Regions from separate parts of the Homo sapiens genome. Here region 2 is linked to region 1. Evidence: fine-mapped expression QTL. A gene starts in region 1. The other region holds a variant in brackets. All regions are shown on one strand. Distances are between the middles of the regions. Region 1 holds the start of MYCBPAP (MYCBP associated protein). Region 2 overlaps MYCBPAP (MYCBP associated protein).

Region 1 (4,382 bases):
CACATATATACACATATACATAATATATATAAAATACATACATATATATATATAGTATGTCATAAAACAGCATTGGACTTTTATTTTTTTAATAATGGGGGTCTCACTGTGTTGCCCAGTCTGGAATGCAGTGGCTATTCACAGGTGTGATCATAAACTCCTGGCCTGGAACAATCCTCCTGCCACAGCCTCCTGAGCAGCTGAGACTGCAGATGTGCACCACCATGCCCGGCTCAACGTTGGACTTTTATACGTGAAGAAACATAAAGCCATACTGAAAAGCGACTAAGCTCCTGTTAGTTTTCTGAGGGTCCCCTCTCCTCACAATGAGCTTTCACAACTCTGAGGCTGGGTCTCCCCAGGGCCTGCAAGAGCACATCCAGGCTTTCTGACCTAGTACATAAAGCCCTTTCATGGTCTGGCCCCTGACCTACCCACCTGTGCAGCCTCTTCTGGTTCCCACATTTACAGTTCCATAAACTCATGCTGCTTCCTAGACCTAGAGAAGCAAACCTCTCCTTTTTTTTCTTGTCTGCCATAGATGTCACCTTCTTCAGAAGACGTACCCCTACAACCATCCCTGGTCTGGCTCAGGTGCTCTGAGCCCCCTTAAGCCCGATGGGCACCTACATCACAGCATTTGTATTTCTACCTTTGTCAGGTTACTCCTCCAGGTGTTCATTAGACTGAGTTTCTTGAGGACCAGGGTCACACAGTTAATACCGATACCCTTCTGGTGAGCCACAGTACCACACAAAATCAGCTCTCAGTAAACAAAAATAGGCTGGGCGCAGTGGTCCATGCCTGGAATCCTAGCAGTCTGTGAGGCCGAGGCAGGAGGATCGCTTGAGGCCAAGAATTTGACACTAGCTGGGGCAACACAGCGAGAGCCCTGTTTACAAACACACACACACACACACACACACACACACACACACACAGAAAAAAAAAGCTAAAAATTAAATTTAAAAATAAATAAATGGAAACAGCCAAAAAAGATCAAAAGGGGGTGGGTTGCAAGTGAGAACATGTCCATGGAAGTCAGTCCGCTATCAGACGCCCTGTGGCTCTCCCAGGTGCAACCAGAAGAAAGCTGTAGAGGGTAGGAAGCAGTCATATCTAGCGATTCTTTCCAGGCTAAAGGAGCTGGATAAGTGTCATCCAGCTGGAAAGTGCACGTGGTAGGAAAAGGCAGTCAAAAAGAGAACTAGCCAAGCAAGGCCTTTCTTCTGGGTTTTTCCAGCAGGAATCCTAAGTGACGCCTGCCCCGCTCCCCGACCCTCCTCTACCAAATAATCCCATCAAGGTGGCTGGTTTCAACACTTCATTCTTTCCTCTTCCCAAGGACCCCAATTCCTGGCCCTTCTACCCTTAAACTCTTTCCTGGCTCTTCTGCACTTCATCCAGTCCGGGGATCCTGCCTCCTGCATGCCACCCTAAGATGTGGTTAGAGGTAGCGCAAGGCCATCTCCCCAGCCAGTGGTCCCTGAGGCCCCTCTGTCAGTCTCCCACTTCCTATGTCCCCATCCCCAAGGCCCAGTGCGCTGTAGGCTCTTCCTGCCTTGCCCCCCATCCCTAAGGGTCCTATGCCCAGTACCCCACTTCCCCGTGATCTTTCCTCCATCCCTGGTGCCATCCCCATCCTCCAGGCCCCGTGTCCTGAACTCTTTCCGGGGACCGCTTCCCCTCTCGGGTTCTCCCGAGCGCCCAAGGCAGCCAGCGCCAACCTTTGACATTCTCTGAGGCCTCTAATAATCTGGTCGGAGTTATTCTGAGGCGGGAATCCTTCTTTAGAGACTTCATGGTGCCGCCCGGCACCATGAAACGTTGCCCTGCACCGCCGGCCCAGAGACACCGAGGCTGCGCCGCACCCGCCAGCCAACGGCCGCCACTGCGTCCACAGCAACCGGTGCCCCGCGCGGGGGCGCGCATCCACCGATCAACTTGGGCGGAGACGGCTTGGAAACCTCCTTCTTCATCGGGCCGCGCACGCGCCCGCCGCCGGCGGCTTCAAGAGCGACGGACCCCTAGAAAGCCCTGCGGGCCCGGCCTGTGACGCCACAGGCGGCGCCGACGAGCGCCGTGACGTCACCAGCCGGGCGGGGCGGGGCGGGGGACCCGGGCGAGGACCCCCGCGAGTTGCGGGAGCCGAGGGCTGGGTGGGAGTGGCTGGCTGGTAGGGGTGCATGACCCGCCTCGCCCCGCCCTGCTGCTAGGCCACGGGGGGCGGGTGGGGCGTCGGGGGTGCCAGCCCCTGCTTCCCGCCTTCCTCGACTAAGGCCACATCCTGTCGAGGGACCTCCCTCTGCCCCCCTCACAGCGGTTCTGGGGGGGGATCGGGCCTTTCAGGACGTGCTGAAACCCCTTCGTGGCGTACCGTAGGTTTTAGGTGTCCCTGCCTGCCGTCCCCAACTCGCACCAACGCGCCTGGAGACCTCCCGGGTCCACGCTCGCTGCAGCCACTTTGGCCTTTCATCACTTCCCAAACCAGCCAAAACTTTTGCCCTGACTTGGGGCATTCTCACAGTCCTTGGAGATGCTGCCTCTGATTATTTTAAGTTTATAAACGCACCCGCTTTTTTCGCCTTCCCCTGGAGCCCTGAGGCATTCTGGGATTATTTCGGTTTTTTGTGTAGTTGCCTATTGTCAAACTGGCTCTCAGAATGTATGAGAGCAGGAGCTGCCTCAGGCCCTGCCCCCAACCCAAAGTTTAGCACTAGTAGTCAGGCAGTAAATTGTACCTCAAATAGTGAAGGGGTTCTAGAGCCAGACAATTGGGTTCTAATCCCAGCTATGTCGGCTTGTTAGCTGTGTGTTCTTGAGCCAATGCCTTGACCTAGAGAGCCGGTTTTCTCTGCTGGGCACAGTGGTTCAGGCCTACAATCCTAGTGCTTTAGAAGGCTGAGGCAGGAGGATTGGTTGAGGCCAGGAGTTCAAAATTGACCTGAGCAACGTAGGGAGACTCCATTCTAAAAAAAAAAAAAAATTTTTTTTTTTTTTTTTTTGAGACGGAGTCTTGCTCTGTGCCCAAGCTGGAGTGTAGTGGTGCCATCTCGGCTCACTGCAACCTCTGCCTCCCAGGTTCAAGCGATTCTCCTGCCTCAGCCTCCTGAGTAGCTGGGATTACAGACGAGTGCCACCATGCCTGGCTAAGTTTTGTATTTTTAGTAGAGATGGGGTTTCACCAGTTGGTCAGGCTGGTCTCGAACTCCTGACCTCGTGATCTGCCCGCCTCGGCCTCCCAAAGTGCTAGGATTACAGGCGTGAGCCACCGTGCCTAGCCTAAAAAAATTTTTTTTTAATTAGCTGGCTTTGGTGGCCCACACCTGTAGTCTTAGCTACTCTGGAGGCTAAGGCAGGAAGATTGCTTGAGCCCAGGAGGTCCAGGCTGCAGTGAGCTCTGATTGCACCACTGTACTCCAGCCTGGGCAACAAAGTGAGATCCCCATCTCATACATCCATACATACATATATACATACATAAAATGGAGGTCATAATGCTGCTCTCACAAGGCCACTGCCAGGGTTAAATGAATATGTATGTATTTCTTTTTCTTAGCGAGTATCTCACTCTGTTGCCCAGGTTGGAGTGCAGTGGCACAATCATAGCTCACTGCAGCTTCAAACTCCTGAGCTTAAATGATCCTGCTGCCTTAGCCTTCCGAGTAGCTGGGACTACAGGCATGTGCCACTGCACCCAGCTAATTATTAAATTTTTTGTAGAGACAGGGTCTTGCTATGTTGTTCAGGCTGGTCTTGAACTCGTGGGCTTAAGCGATCCTCCCGCCTTGGCCTCTCAAAGTGTTGGGATTACAAGCATGAGCCACCTCACCTGGCCTGAGTGTGCATTTAAACTACGAAACAGGGTGCCCTCCATAAACTGTAGTATCTTCTCAGTCAATTCTCAAAATCATGCTGGGGTTGAAGGGAGGGGACACATTATAAGCCCATTTTACAAACGGAGAAACTGAGCTCCAGAGAGAAGGGTGTAATGTCACCTGACTAGCGGGAAGCACAAATTGAACCTGGTTTTCTAAAGTCCAAGGCCAGGGCTCTTTGAACCCTGTCTCCTGGGACATTTCTGAGTTTGCAAGAGCTGCCCCAGACAGCGGAGGAGCTAGAGACGATGCCAGCAGTGCTGGTGAATCCCTGAGTTCCCTGTGTGTTGCCCGTTGCTGGGTCCTGCTCCAGGGCCATGGCCCCTTCTTCACACTGCTCTAGACCTTGCTCTCCTTATGACTGAGGCATCCTCCACGGACAGCCCCTCTCCTGCTCTCCGAGGCCCAGGCTCTGGCTTCCCTCTACCCTCTAGAGAATCCCCAGTTCCGTTTACTTCGCGACTGAGCACTTATGATCCAGCAGGCTAGGTGCTGTGCCATGTG
Region 2 (4,382 bases), 22 kb before region 1:
CCTCCTGCATCTCAGCTGGAGGATGCCTGAGGCCCACTTAAGGATGCCCACCCACCCAAAAACCAAAGTTGTTCTTCAAACTCTGGGAGCCTGGAGTGCTCTTCACACAGGGAGCCCAGCCCCAAATGGTTATGACTGACAGAAGACAATGAGGGGCCTGAGTTTGAGCTGACAATACCTTTTTTTCTGAGAGCCATTTCTAGCCTGTTTCATGTTCCCCTGAGCAAGGGAGGTAGCATGAAGATCAGCAGCTGTTTTTAAGGCAGAAAGATGGCTCAAGGCCAGATAGTTTGAGATGAGGAGGGGGATAAGGCAGACTAGACCCCGAAATAACAAGGTGATGTGGCCTCTAGAGCTGAAGAGGTGTGGTGAGCATGATCTTCAGGGACTGAATTGGGGCCCTGGGACCCAGCTGAAGAGGGGAGATGGCAGGGAGCCAGGTCCCATGGGTCTAGTTCTACTCCTCATCTCACACTTTGTCATACTTGGTGATGACACTTCGGGAAGACCTGGCTCCAGGAAGCACGACCCTGAAAGTGTGGGCCAAGGAAGCCAGAGGCAGGGACTACCAGAGGTGACACACTGTCCTGTCACCTGACTCCTTGTCTTGCTACCAATCTGCTCCTCTGCTTGGCATCCCACACATCACTTCCCCAGCTATGTCTGTCTGTCCTCCTGCAGGAGGGCTCTGGCAGCTGGCAGGAGGGGATCTGAGGGCAGGTGGAACATGGGAGGACCTGGATCAGGAGCTGACCTAGCCAAGATCCATCATGCAAGACACAGAGGCACACGGAAGTAGTAGAAACTTGAAGGTTCTTTATTGATTTATTTATTAACCCGTTTTCCAGAAGGTTGCTTGGGCCCGAGAGTCACCTGCAGAGGCGCAAAGCCTCCTCGACATTCTTTATGGGGCTGAGCTCATCAGCCAGGACCATCAGGTCAGTCACCAGGGTGTCCAGCAGCCCACGGACCTGGAAGAACGGGACAACATCACAGGCAGAGTTTACTCTGTGGGAAGCACCTATATATGAACTATGCTGTGAGAGAATAGCTGGAGAGGGGAAAGAAACCAGTTGTTTGTGAAAGAATTTCACAAGTTCAAAGTTCTTGTGAAATAATTTTTGGTTTTGCAGATTTTTTTTTTTTTTGACAGGATCTCACTCTGTCACCCAGGCTGGAGTCCAGTGGTGTGATCATGGCTCACTGCAGCCTTGACTTCCCTGGCTCAGGTGATTCTCCCATCTCAGCCTCCCAAGTAGCTGGGACTACAGGCGTGCACCACCAGACCTGGCTACTTTTTTCTATTTTTTGTAGAGATGGGGTTTCACCACATTGCCCAGGCTAGTCTCGAACTCCTGGGCTCAAGCAATCCACCTGCTTTTGCAGTTTTACTTTTCAAACCAGTCTGGGGAGGTGGCCCTGCGCTGGTACCTTTGACATATGGAGATACTAGAGCTAAGTTGTTCAAGGGGCAACTCCAGGGAGCCCATGGAGCGGTGCCCATTTAGCCGTTTGGGGTGGGCCTGGGCTCAGCCCCAGTTCTACTCTGGCCTCCTGGAGGCCAATTTTCCTTCCTGTATCCACAGACTGAAAGGTCTCTGGGACTGACCCCTCCAATGGGGTTGGATCATACAAGCCCAGACAAGTTGATTCTTTTTTTTTTCTGCAGAGATGGGGTCTCCCTGTGTTGTCTAGGCTGATGTCGAACTCCTGGGCTCAAGCAATCCACCTGCCTCAGCCTTCCAACGTGCTAGGATTACAGGTGTGAGCCACTGGCCAGCAAGTTGATTCTTTTTTTTTGGAGGTAAGAGTCTCACTCTTGTCACCCAAGCTGGAGTGAAATGGCGTGATCTCGGCTCACTGCAACCTCCACTTCCCGGGTTCAAGCGATTATTGTGCCTCAGCCACCCAAGTAGCTGGGACTACAGGTGAGTGTCACCATGCCTGGCTAATTTTTTGAATTTTTAGTAGAAACGGGATCTTACCATGTTGCCCAGGCTGGTCTTGAACTCCTGAGCTCAGGCAATCTGCCCACCTTGGCCTC[C/T]CAAAGTGCTGGGATTACAGGCACGAGCCACCGCACCTGGTCTGCAAGTTGATTCTTAATATCAAAGAGCCATGGAAGGGTTGACGTTGACCCCCATGGGTCCTCAGAGCCCTTTAATTACTTTCTAGACCCCATCAACCATCTGATATCTTAGTGATGTCACCAGTGGCAAATGGAACTTTTGATCAAATGAGATCCAGAGTGTGACCACAATACATGATGTAATCCCAGCTCCCCAGCTATCCACATTAGAGGAAGGCAAGACGTCGCCAATAGACATACTGACATATTGAAAATGGCTTTGTGGACCTCCCCTCCAAAACAAACAACAACACTAACAAACAAAACGGAAAACCTGGGTGAATTTCTAAGGACCTGCTACTTAAGAACGGATTAGGATGAAGTCTCTCTAGTCCTTCAAACTCTTACAGTTGATGGGAATGCACCCTGCATGGTGTTCTCCCAAGGAACGCATCTGCCAGGATGCACCTAACGGGGAGTAAGAAAGAGAAGGGCTTCCTTCCTCTCTGTTCCCCTAGAGTCTGTTCTCCAAAGGGCGGCCAGAGCCACCTTCTAAAGCCTATCAGACCCTATTGCGTTTCTATTCAAAACCTTGCGTGACTTCTCATTTCACTCCGAAAAATCCCAAGTCTTCACAATAGCCTGCAAACCATCCCCCACCCCTATGACCTGCTCCCCACTACTGCCCTCTCCCTTCTGGCCCCTCCCTCCTATGGCAGTTGCTCCCCATGCCTGGAGCACTCTTTACTGGACGTCTACTTGGCCACCCTTCCCCTCCCTTCAAATCTTTGTGGGTTGTCACCTCCTCACTGAGGCCTCTGTGCCTCCATTCCCTGCCTGGTCTATCTTCTCTCCCGTCGTACTCATCACCTAACATGCTAGGCGCATTCCTTATTCATGAGGCCTGTCTCACACACGAGGATGCCCTTCCTGAAGCAGCTCTGCTTCCACCATGATGGAGTGGGCACTTATTGTCTGCAGACTGAACGGAATGAATAAGGCAGGTGGGAGGCAGGGGAATGGCTGCTGGGCGCTTCCCTTCACCTCACTGTGCAGGCTCTGGGTGTATTTCCCCATGACCAGGGGGTCTATGGGTTCTTGAGAAGAGAGGATGATGTCAGGGGTAGGGTCTTCCAAAGAAAACCTGTCCTGACTTGCAGATTTTATGACTTTCTTGTCATCCTTTGCCTTGTGCTTCTTGCTGTTGGGACGGTCCTGCTGGGGGAGGGAGACACACATAGCCTTCAGGAGCTCCAGAGGTAGGCCAAGGATGTCCTCAACAGTAGCTCACTGGGAGAGCCTGGGCACATGCCCACCTCCACAGCCCCCACCTCCGCAGCCCCTCCAATCCCCTCCCCAGCCCCACCTGGCCCAGACCACGCCCCAGCATGCCTCTTTCCCGAGCAGCTTGGCTCCTTTCTTGTCTTCTTTGTCTTTGATCCCCAGTTGCTTCTTTTCCTGGGCTGCTCCTTTCCGCTCCTCCTTCCCAGCTTTCCCCACAGGTACCTTCACTTCCATGATAGGAGGTGATTTTTGATCTAAGGGAGGTGGGTGGAAGAAAATATGGCAGGCCCCCAACAGCCTAGTGGATGCTGCAGGTACGTGAGGAGGCTTGAGGGGAGGTGGAAAAGCAAAGGGCAATAGCCTTGAGCCCTGGTAGGCGCGTGGCTTCATGAAACAGGACTGTGGTGCCTATGTTCTGGTCCCAGCTCTGCCATGCCATGAATGGCCATGGATAAGTCATTTAACTTTGCTGGGATTACTAAACCAAGGTGGTCACTAAGGTAGCTTCTGGGTACCACATCCTGGCAGCGGACAGAAAGGGGTAAGGGGCCTACTCCATGGGCTCAACCTAGCAGAGCTTCCACCAAAGGAGTATGACTGGCCCAGGCACTGCTGCTTGTCCATTCAGAGAGATGAGGAGGGCTATGCAGAGGTGTGGTTGGTTGCACAAGATCTGACCTTGCTCTTCAGGCACATTCAAATAGATGGTCTCCTTCTCAGGCAGGCCCAGCACAGACCTCAGCCACATGGAATGGCCCACCAGGCTGTCAATCACATCTCGCCACAGCTGCAAACTAGAGGGCAAGACACAGTGGAGAAATGCCATCACTCCTCATTTGTCCTTGAACCTGCAGAGGCTTGGGTCCCTCCCTTCAAAGACCCTGGTGCCACGAGCTGCTGTGGAAATGCCACACCCCTGAACAGCCAGCATCCTCACTGTTCCCCGCCAGGGCAAGTGCTTGGAGGGGGTTCTGGCTTGCCTTGGGTGGCAACCAAGAAAAAAATGGCCCAGGACTAGGGTTAGGAGGCCTGC

What was found. PIP is the estimated chance that this variant, and not a neighbour inherited with it, causes the effect. A credible set is the group of variants that fine-mapping cannot tell apart.
Region 2: its variant is the best candidate, but not a certain one, in a credible set for the expression of MYCBPAP in testis (GTEx, PIP 0.85).

Annotation. Positions count from the first base shown.
Region 1 is chr17:50,506,096-50,510,477 of GRCh38, reverse strand. MYCBPAP (MYCBP associated protein) reads right to left here and starts at 2,039. Exons shown (of 19, transcript NM_032133.6): 1 at 1,728-2,039. The coding sequence starts at 1,803. RefSeq lists enhancers at 1,814-1,943, 1,964-2,023 and a silencer at 2,044-2,333.
Region 2 is chr17:50,527,916-50,532,297 of GRCh38, reverse strand. It overlaps MYCBPAP (MYCBP associated protein), which reads right to left. Exons shown (of 19, transcript NM_032133.6): 16 at 4,028-4,143; 17 at 3,458-3,603; 18 at 3,110-3,280; 19 at 797-971. The coding sequence ends at 870. Among named protein-coding and RNA genes, the nearest start is that of EPN3, 2.6 kb to the left of the region's middle. The variant C/T (reference allele first, on the strand shown) is at 2,045.